2 separate regions of the Homo sapiens genome follow, and region 1 is linked to region 2. The links come from fine-mapping of genetic effects on gene expression. A gene starts in region 2. The other region holds a variant in brackets. All regions are shown on one strand. Distances are between the middles of the regions.

Region 1 (5,378 bases), 340 kb after region 2:
GCAAAACAGACTACGACAAGGTCTGAGCTTTAGTAGAAAGTCATTCCTTCTTTAGGACTGGAGGATCAAAGGAGGTGGTACAGCCAGAGCCCAGGAGCTGGGGCAGCCTGGAGGGAGCTGGAACCATGACAAGGACTTGCCCAGAAGAAGTACATCCATGGAGGGAGGTGCTTTCTGCTGGGATAGAATCTAGGAGGCAAAGCAGCCACATGTAGGCCTTTTGGAAGATGATTTCTGAGAATTAGGAAAATTCATGGCTTTATGTTTGGCAAATTCACATTAAAAAAAACATTACGGCAGGACTCGGCCAGTATTTTACCTTGGAAATAATATATGCATTTCTTAATGATTTCTCTAGTCTCTGAGAAACTATAAGGGCTCAGCTGGCCCCTTAATCTATATGACATTTTTATGACAATGAAACTATCACCCCAAGGAGAGTCTTTTGTTCAATTGTCAGATTTTATTGGGCTAGCATAAGCTAACAAAGCAAAATAAAATTATACAGCTAGTATTATATTTAAAACATCAATTTATTACATTTAAAGCTATACCCAAATAAATAAATACACTGGCCTTTGGTGTCAACCAAACAAAATCAATCACACAGATGTTTAATATCTGATTATAATTTTTCCCTACAAGTAAGCTTCTTTGTCTGGACCACAGATAAGAAGATTCATCCTCCCAAACATAATAAGAATTTTAATGGCAACTCAAACTAATTTTATGTCCTTTTGTCAGTCCCTTGCAGAAGTTTTGTGTAAATAAATCTAACTCCTTCCAAAGCAAAATTGTATATCTTTTGGGAGGGGAGCAACTTCTTTCTTTTTCCCTTGGACTTTGAACTGTGGAGTTATACACACTTGGGGTCAAACCATCATTCCAACACTTGTCACTGTGACTCTGGCAAGTTGTAGAAGCTTTGTAAGTATCGGTTTCCTTATTTGCTAGAAATAAGTAAACAAACAAGTAAATAAATGCTGAGGATTAATCTCTGTAAAGCACTTAGAACAGTAACTGACCCATAATAAGTATTCAAGAATTGCTAGCTGCTTTCTTTTCTCTGGAATCACTAACTTTTCTCCAAAAACTCACTGCCTTCTTGATCCAGTTTAACTGCCAATCAGTGATATTTGGCCAAAAATATTTAGCTTTGTCCCAGGGGATCACATGTCCTTGTGTGGTCTAGTATGTATTAAATCTAGCTAAACTACAGAACCACCAGGGAGCTTTAAAAATACAATTTCCCAAGCCCAATCCCAGGCCCACTGAGTTGTAACCCTCAAGGACAGAGACCTAGATCTACATTTTTAACAAGCCCCACCCCCCACTTAGAAAGCAATTAAACAGGTGACTCGGATGATATATACAGCTTGCCTTTTTGCCACTCATGAGGCAGGGTTATTAATCAACTTGACTATTTCCTTCACCTGAAATCCATAAGTGCTTTGCACACCTCTATACAATATCTAAACTTCATCTTTCCAGAAGACAATCTCAAGAAAACACAAGAAATGCATCCCCCCCCCCATTTTTTTTTAATGAACTGCTTTCAATTTTATAACCTTCAGGTTAATGTCACATTTTCTTGCCATTGGCATTTTCAGATGTAGGGTGGACTTTAAAAGTCAATATAAGCTGGAAGAAAAAAGATCAAACAGCAGAGCCTCCTCAAATGTCACTGCTATTGAGAATGGCGGCCACTGATATTACAGGGTCCAACGGTCCTATTCATATTATTTCTCTTTAATACCAAACCTTTTTCTAGCTAATCTGTCAGAAAAAAAAAGCCATTTCTGGGTGGTGATTTTTCAAGCAATGGGAGTTTTCATTTTGCTTTTCATAAAGTCACATAGTTCCAAGCAGACAGACTGGCGACAGAAATCATATTCCAAACACAGATCGAACAGGGTGTGTCACTAAAAGCCTGTGTGCACATTCACAGCAGATGCCAAGCAGCCATCTGTGTGGGGCCAGTTGGAGCTCACAAACACCAGGCCTGTAATTGCTAGAAAGGGCCTGG[C/A]AGTGCTAGTACCTCTTCATGCCAGGCCATCTTGGTACTTCCAGGGGGTCAAGTATAATGACAAAATAAAGCCACTCTTACCCCCTTATAGTCACTTTTACTCTTTACTCTGTCTTCTCAATGTTTAAGGGGAGGTCTTGGTTAGATTTTGCCTGAGGCAAAAAACAACAGCATCTTTTACTAAGAATTTTACATTGTTCCCTAACAACCACCCTAAAAAATAATATTACTATCCCATTCTAACCAGTACAGAAAGAGGTGAGTAAAGGTTCAAAGACAAAGAGCTGTGGGTGGAGGGATAAGTACTCTTTCAGGATGTCAGATTCTTAGCCCAGCTCATCCCCTGCCACTTGGTCATGTTACAAAAGGGTAAAGTTGACAACACTGACTTTGCCTGACTTTTCATTGCCCCAGCTTGAAGAGTTAACTATTCTAAAATATTTGCACTGATTTGGGATGGCTGGACTGAAGACTTTTAAGGGCACTCACTGAATGTTTATGAAAAGGAAGGAGGGAAGGAGGGAGGGAGGGAGAAAAGACAAGAGAAGGAAGGAAAGAAGGGAAGAAAAAAGATGAGGAAAAGAGAGAAAGGAGGAGGAGGAGAAAAGGAAGGAGGGAAGTGAGGGGAATAAAGGAAGGAAAAGAAGGAAGGAATACCCTGTTGAGGGCCCAAATTGAACAAAAAGGTGGAGAAAGGGCAAATTCTTTCACTCTCATCTTGAACTGGGTACTATGTGATGGATGAGAGTTCGTGATGGATGAGAGTTCATGATGGAACTCTGGTCCATTTTCTCCTGCCCTTGGACATTAGAGCTCCTGGTTCTCAGACCTTTGGACTTGGGCCGAGTTACACCACCAGCTTTCCTGGTTCTCCAACTTGCAGATAGCACATCATGGGACTTCTCAATCTCCATAATTTCATGAGCCAATATAATACATATACATATGTAATATATAAATCTTCATACACACACACACACACACACACACATACACACACACACACTCTCTCTCTCTCTCTCTCTCTCTCTCTCTCTCTACTAATTCTGTTTCCCTAGAAACCCCTGACTAATACAGATGGCAAATGGGATTACAGATGTGACTTACTTAAGGATCTTGAGATGTGGAAATTATCCTTATTATCTGGGTGACCCAATATAATCACAAGGGTCCTTATACCAGGAAAGCAGAGCAGGAGAGTAAGAGGAGATGTGATGATGGAGACTTTGGAGCAATGCCTTTTCTGGCTAGAAGAGGGCCATGAGCCAAGGAAGCTGGAAAAGACAATAAAGAGATTGTCCTCTACAGCCTCCAGAAGGAACCAGTTCTGCCGACGCCTTGCTTTTAGTCCTGTTTAGTCCCATTTTCAGACTTCTGACCTCCAAAACTATAAGATAATGGATTTGTGTTGTTTCATGCCACTAAGTTTGTGGTGATCTGTTACAGCAGTGGTAGGAAACCAATACACCAGAAATAATAGCAGCCTTCTTATCTCAGTCAAGAGTCCCCAGACCACAGGGGCCAAAACCAGCCCCTGATAGAGTCCCGTGTTAGAAACTTGTATCTCATTGAGATGTGCTACATGCTGCAGGTTACATGCAGACCACAGTCCACTGGGCCTGAAGATGTTCTCCCTCAGAGAACACCCACCAAAGGGAAGGGTACCTTTCTCCCCCGCCACCCACAACTATTTCTTTTATTTCTATAACAACACTGCCACATTCAAAAGTGGCCATGCTTACCAATTTGTCTGAATATTTAAGATATTTTAAGGAAAACGGAATATTATTTTGCCACAGAACCTTTTTGTGATAGATTTACAGGATGTACCCCACCAGGGAATTAATCAATTTTAATCCGTTGTTGCAACAATTGGTTCATCTGTGAAATCAGAAGAACTAATGTTTCTGTCTATGTATGTACAATTATGCATCGAATTCAATGACATAATGATACTCTATCAATATCCTACAAGCTTCCCCTTTTTTCTCTTTTGAGACAGGGTCTCACTCTGTCACCCAGGCCTGAGTACAGTGGCACAGTCATGGCTCAGTGCAACTTCGACCTCCCAGACTCAAGCGATCCTCCCACTTCAGTCTCATGAGTAGCTGAGGCTGAGGACTACAGTAGCTCCCAAGTAGCTGAAGTGGGACTACAGGCACGTGCCACCGCGCCAAGCTAATTTTTTTTTTTTGAGCCGGGGTTTTGCCATGCTGCCCAGGCTGTTCTTGAACTCCTGAGCTCAAGCGATTCACCCAACTCTGCCTCCCAAAGTGCTAAGATTACAGGCATGAGCCACTGCACCCAGTCAATATCCTACAGTTTTCTAAGTGTTCCATCCAGTTTGACGATCTTTGTTAAAGGCTTGCTATACCTTTGGTGTATGAGTAACCACAGTTAGGCTTTCACCAAAAGAAAAAGATTTCATTTTGAACGTCCCAATGGTCCTGTCAACCACTATGTCATTTTTACAACAATCAATTCTCCAGCACTAACTGGGTTTCCCACCATTTAATTCAATGGAGACATTAACTATCCGGAGTTAGCACAGACCCCACAGGTAAAGAGCTCAGTCCCACATGACTGCTCTCACTTCAGATGCTAGCCACAAATGGGGTCACCAGGCTCCCTGCACTTCTGCCCAGCCAATTACAAATTCAGGAGTTCCCATGACTTGCTCCCCATGTGGGTTTGACAATTCGCTAAGATGACTCACACAACTCAGGAAAGTGCTATAGTTACAACAGTTTATTATAAAAGGTACAAACAGCCAGGTAAAGAGGTATATAGAGCGAGGTCTGGAAGGACCCTGAGCACAGAAGCCTCTGTTCCCAGAAAGATGAGGCATGCCACCCTCCCAGTACATTGATATATTCACCGACCAGGAAGTTCCCCCAAACCTCATTGTCCAGTTTTTACTGAGGTTTCATGTAAGCACTATTGACACACTCATTGGCTATTGGTGATTGAATTGAATCTCCAGATCCTCTTCCCCAACCAGGGGTTGGGGATGCAGCAGAGAGTTCTAACTCTCTAGTCATGTGGTTAGCTTTTCTGTCAACTAGCCTCATCCCAAAGCTGTTTAGCCCTCCTGCCCTATAAGTCATCTCATTAGTATAAACTCAGGTATGATTGAAAGGAGCTTGTTATGGATAACAAAAGACAAGGTATGGAAGGCAATGGTTATACAGGAGTTAGCTAGTCTTGCTAAGCTGTGTTGTTATCATACATGTATTTTTGTCTTCACATAATTTTAGCTCTTTGGGAGTTAGTCAAGTCTTTCTGAATTGCAATTCTGGTTTTTCTCTTATTTTATTTCTTTATTACAATTAAATATATTCAAAGTAAAGCC
Region 2 (5,378 bases):
CTGCCTGTCCAGGACTATCCACCCAGAACCTATGTTAGGTTTGCTACAAGGTCTGTTAATAACCAAACCCGCACATAACTAACAAGATTATCGACTAGGCTGCTTTTTTTGAAGAAGAGCTTTCAAAACTTCCAACATCCCTTCAGCTAATATTTGCAAACATGTTTAATCACAGATTTGGGAACAGAACATCTGTTCGTTTGGTAGAGCAAGCTCTTTTACTCACTTCACCTTTCTTTTCTTTTTCCCTTCCTTCCTTCCTTCCTTCCTTCCTTCCTTCTTTCTTTCTCTCTTTCTTTTCTTTCTTTCTTTCCTTTCTTTATTTTTTTTTCTTTTTTTTCGGGGTCTTATTTGTCGCCCAGGCTGGAGTGCAGTGGCACAACCTAGGCTCACTGCAGCCTCGACCTCCTGGGTTCAAGTGATCCTCCTGTCTTAGCTCCCCAAGTACCTGAGACTACAGGCACACACCACCATGCCCAGCTATTTTTTTTTTTTTTTTTTTGTAGAGACAGCATTTCACCATGTTGCCCAGGCTGGTCTCAAACTCCTGAGCTCAAGCGATCATCCGCCCTCCTCGGCCTTCAAAAGTTCTAGGATTACAGGTGTGAGCCACCTCACCGGGCCTCACTGTTTCTAATAGGTGGATCAAATCCTCACTCAATGAACATTCTCCAAAGGACCATTTATTTCATTCAGAATTTTAAACATTTCCATTTGTTTATTTGTAAATGAAAAAGACTTTGTGTATCCCCACCTTTCATTTTTTTTAGAGGTTTTCTGAAACATGGAGGCAGCATATTTTATGGCACTGTGTTAGTTCAGGCTGCTATAACAAAATACTGTACCTTAGACTGGGTCATTTATAAACAACAGACAATTATTTCTCGTAGTTCTGGAGGCAGGTAAATCCAAGATCAAGGTGCCAGCAGATTTGGTGTCTGGCGAGGGCTCTCTGCTTCATCAGTGGCTCCTTGTTGCTGTGTCCTCACATGGCAGAAGGGGCAAATAGGCTCTCTGAAACCTCTTTTATAAGGGTATTTTGCTTTAAGGGCATAGAAGATGGAAGGGATTAATTTTTCTTGGGGCATTTGGGGAAATCACGAATGAGTGGTGACATTTGAGATTGTTGGATAGTTGGTGAGTGAGTCAAAGGAGAATAAAAATGGAAGGAACATTAAAAGGGCTCAGTCCTTGAGAGAGGAAATCCCAGCTCATATTTACCTTTGAGGTGATGAAAGCAGAAGGCAGACGCAGTTGTAGCTTCTACTGAAGGTGATAAACAGATGTGCCATGGGATTAAGCTCCAGTATTTAATGGCAGGAGCCCTGGGTAGCTTCCTGTGTCCTGTGGCTGGGGCATACCTAGGGCTGGGATAGACGCAATATTTCTCAAAGTAAATCAGAGTCCTTTGTCAGTGGGATAAAATGCTGATTCTCAGGCTCCTCAGCAAACCTACTGAATCAGATTATTTTGGTGCAGGGGCCTGGAGATTTGCATTTTTAACAATCTCCCCAGAGGTTTCCTTGCACCCTCAAGTTTAAGAACCACCCTTTCAAAGCGTGATTTCATCACCCAGGAGACATTTGGTAATGTCTGGAGACATTATTGGTCATCACGATTGTGGGGGTGCTACTGGCATCTAGTGTGCAGAATCCAGGGATGCTGCTACACATCTTACAGTGCACAGGACAGCCCTCACGACAAAGAATTATCCTGCCCAAAATGTCAATAGTGCTGAGATTGAGAAATCCTGAACTCCATCATATGAAGGGCTCTCAAGGAAAAGTACAAGAAGTGGACTGAAGTCAGTTTGTGTCACTAGGTGGCTCCTTAGGCTACTCAGGCAGGGGGCTAGCGTTATGGGCTTCCAGGCCCAGTTATCGGACCACCAAATTTTCACAGAACTGGGCAGAGCTCACATGTATTGAACCCATGCAGCTGACACTCCTGAAGCCACCAATGCATTATTTGCTAAGTAATTTTTTTTCCTCTGATACCAACACATTTAAAATCTTTATTGAATTATCGTCACAAAATTGCGGTCATTTCTTGGGGGAAAATATGCCATTAGTTCTACACAAAGTACTCTTTGCTCAACTTGCACTTTCTTGAAATCCAGAAGGTAGATTTACATTAAAATCATGTTGGCTAAGAGTTGAAAAAAGTTATTGCTTATATGGAGTTAAGAAAGCAAACTTTGGAAATTTTTTTTGGTCTGAGTTTGTTTCTAAGAAGCCAACTACTTCTCCAGCTCTCCTGCAATCCTGCCAAGGTGATGTCCAGCTTGTCCCTGTTAATAAGTTCAACAGATCAACCCTGTAGGGAAGCCAAACCATAGAGAAAGGTGGATGCACTAAATTTTTTTTTTTCTGAACAAAATGTCAGTGTGTATTGTTCTATGACAATAGTGTTATTTGAAATTATGCCTCGGGCCTTCAGTAGGTAAAGATTCTTGTTCATTTGCTGCATTTCAAAAAAATTGTGTGCACGTTCCCATTAAGATTTATTTTTCTTAAATTGAATATACAGTTAATCTATATGCAGATGAGGTAGGTAACACCCTCCTTTCTGGATTGTTCGTTTTAGTTAAGGTGTTACTCATAACAATTTGGTTTCCTTTCCAGTCTTTTGCAAAAGTAGGGCTTCAGTGCAAGATATCCTTTTAAAAATACCCTTGGGTCCTGAGTGTTGAACTTTTCTGGCTGAAATAATTTTGCACCTTCCAAATGTTTTAATGCTGTTAGGGAGCTCTTAAAATGCAAGGATTTAAGGCCCTTAGCTAGTTAAGCTTTTAGCAGAACTAGAGCTGTTAGATAAGAATAGAACTCATCCTTTACTTTTGGAGCTTTGGACATTGTTTCCAGCTGCTTCCAGTCATTTGAATCCCGAAAGCGCCCCTAATCCTCGCGGAGGCAGCCTTTCTGGCTCCCAGGACCCACCCCCTTGCTTCTGATTGGCGAAGCTCCTCCGCGGCCCAAGCCAGCCACCTACAACGTCTCTGAGAACTGATTTGAAATAAGAGCCAGGCGGTCCTCGCTTCCCTGCGACCGACTTTTCATAGGCTGGGGGAGAAAAGGTTGAGAAACTTGACATTGTCTCGAGCAGAGTGCGTGTAGCAACAGATCAAAGAAAAAGAGGACGAAAACGTGCTCTTTGCTGCCCGTAGATTTCGCCGGGTTGCTTTTGTCTTGCGGGCTCCTGTCGGGTTCGGTGTTTCCGCTCTGAAGACTGCGACGCGGGCTCCGATGCAGCTCGCTCCCTGCCGGATGGGTCATGGGATTCTAAACATGAGGCAGGTAAGCTCAGGCGGTTGCGCTGGCGGCGGAGGGGGCGGGCGCCGCCCGGGACCCCTGCGACGTGTTACTGCGGAGAGCTTGCTGGGTTAGCAGGCGCCTGGCCGTAGTCGATGCGTTTGGCGGAAAGACGGGGCTGCATTTTCCTAAGACAACCAAAGAAGCACATTTTACCTGAGCCACCCCGGTCTGGTCCTCGCCACCCGCCCCCACTTTTGCCTCTAATTGTGGTTGATGTCAGGCAGTCGTTGTAAAGGGCTTACAAGCAGTTTGTAGAATATATGTAAATCAATTCCAGTTTGCGGCCGCTGGAATGTATCGTGCAGGATGTATCTCGAGCTTTTAGTGCCTCTACCCTATGCTTTGGGCTAGAATAAAGACAGCTGAATGTCCTGAAAAAGAATTTCACGGGGCCTCTTATCTCATTTTGGTTTCGCATTCTGAGCACTTACTGTGTTTCTGGCGGAGAAGGCGGAACCAGCTTGAAATGAGCACAGACAGTCCTTCCAGAAAAATGCAAATTTGTTTTTCTGTTCTAGCAGTTTGGAAACTGTATTGCTTCTGGACGTGAGAAGGCAGCCCTGAAAGTAGTGAGCGGAGAAAGGGCTGGGGGATTACTTAAATGAGTCTTTGAAAAGAATTCTAAACCAACAGCTTCTTCTGTGGCTCTGGGGCATGATGATAAAATTCCTTATCAGTCCAGGAAGAGGTTTATAGCTTTGCTGTTAAGCAAGAAAAGGAAAGAAAAAGTGGATGTAGGAAGCCAAGGAGAGGGTGTGATTTACAACTCAATCAAAGTTATGGAAGAATTTTATGTCAATATTTAAATATCAAGAACAATACTCATATAAGGAGAAAACAAGGCTGGAAAAACATGCCAATAGGCTTGGAAGGGCAGGGATTTCAAGAGGAATGCTATTGCTTTTACCAGCTCTGAATAAATCTGGATGGGAAAGTTAGCATCTGTATCGCAACCGGAAAAGCTCTTCACTTTTTCTTCTAAGTGGGTTGGGTGCTCGCCACCCTGCACACTTTGGGGGAAGTGAGCTTTCCATTTAAGAGCGCAGGGGAGGGGTTTCGAACTTTCTGTCCCTTTCCCACAGCCTTGGGAGATGAAGCAGAGCCCCCTTCGAATGGTCAGCGCAAACCCTCCGCCTTCTTGCCCCCTCGCTTGTTCGCTCAGCAAGCAGGCTTGGCAAGTTTCAGTGAGTGCAGAAAAACACTTGCGGAGGAGCAAGTGCCGTCTGCTTGCAATGAATTGCCCTTGCCTTGGTAGGGACTGTGGGGAGGACGTCTTTAAGTTCTGCAAACTCACAGTCCAACCTCATACTTTTAATGTCTACTAAAGTGGGATGAGGAAAAGGAAGGAGAAGGGTAATTGGAAAGGATTGAAAAGGAAAAAGAGGAACGCAAAACATTTTTGACAAAGGTCCTTAGCTGGAACAAAGAAGTTATTTGATCCTGTGCAGAGCCACCTGTCCTCTCCTCGGTGGTGTCTGAGCTCAATTTCCAGAATCCCTGTTCCCACACAATTCCTCAGGAACCATGGCAGTCTCCGTGCCTTATGCCTAAGGTTTGCTTCCCCCAGCTTGGAATGGTTTTTCCCATGCCTAGTTTGTTGTGGCATTTACGTGAAGTTGGAAAACAGCCCAGTATTGAAATTTTAGGGGTACAAGTACACATATAGTGAACTCCTTAGTTATTTAATGAATGGGCAACTTTTCATCTCACAGCTACGTATGTCTACTAATTTTTTTGGCCTGTTCAGAACTTTGAAAGAGGGTGGGATGGAACAGGGGAGGAGATGAAGGAGAGAGACAGGATCATTGTTCATCCAAAGAACGAGGACAGTTTCCAGAATCTAGCATGTTGTTCCACTGCAGTCAGAACAAGAATGTAGGGAGGAATGAGATGGCAGTGTTATTGGCATGGGTTAATCCCTACTTTATTTGAGTTTCTCTTGGGGAAACCTGACTGTTGCATCCAGGCAGGGTGAGTCGAATTCACCAGCCAATTTGTCATCTCAGCCCGGCAGCTCCAGCTGGATTTACAGGGTTAACTATCAAACAGACCTGTGTGTCATCA

Which allele goes with the higher level. Alleles are on the strand shown, and positions count from the first base shown. SD is a standard deviation of normalised expression in the study named.
For the expression in cerebellar hemisphere of the gene that starts at base 3,001 in region 2, allele A in region 1 goes with a higher level than allele C (moderate effect, 0.70 SD a copy in GTEx).

What was found. PIP is the estimated chance that this variant, and not a neighbour inherited with it, causes the effect. A credible set is the group of variants that fine-mapping cannot tell apart.
Region 1: its variant is the best candidate, but not a certain one, in a credible set for the expression of MID1 in cerebellar hemisphere (GTEx, PIP 0.87).

Annotation. Positions count from the first base shown.
Region 1 is chrX:10,276,848-10,282,225 of GRCh38, reverse strand. No RefSeq gene overlaps it. Among named protein-coding and RNA genes, the nearest start is that of CLCN4, 120 kb to the right of the region's middle. The variant C/A (reference allele first, on the strand shown) is at 2,027.
Region 2 is chrX:10,618,208-10,623,585 of GRCh38, reverse strand. It overlaps MID1 (midline 1), which reads left to right and starts at 3,001. Exons shown (of 10, transcript NM_000381.4): 1 at 3,001-3,296. It overlaps LOC124905245 (a long non-coding RNA gene), which reads right to left and starts at 3,885. Exons shown (of 2, transcript XR_007068391.1): 1 at 3,746-3,885; 2 at 662-3,439.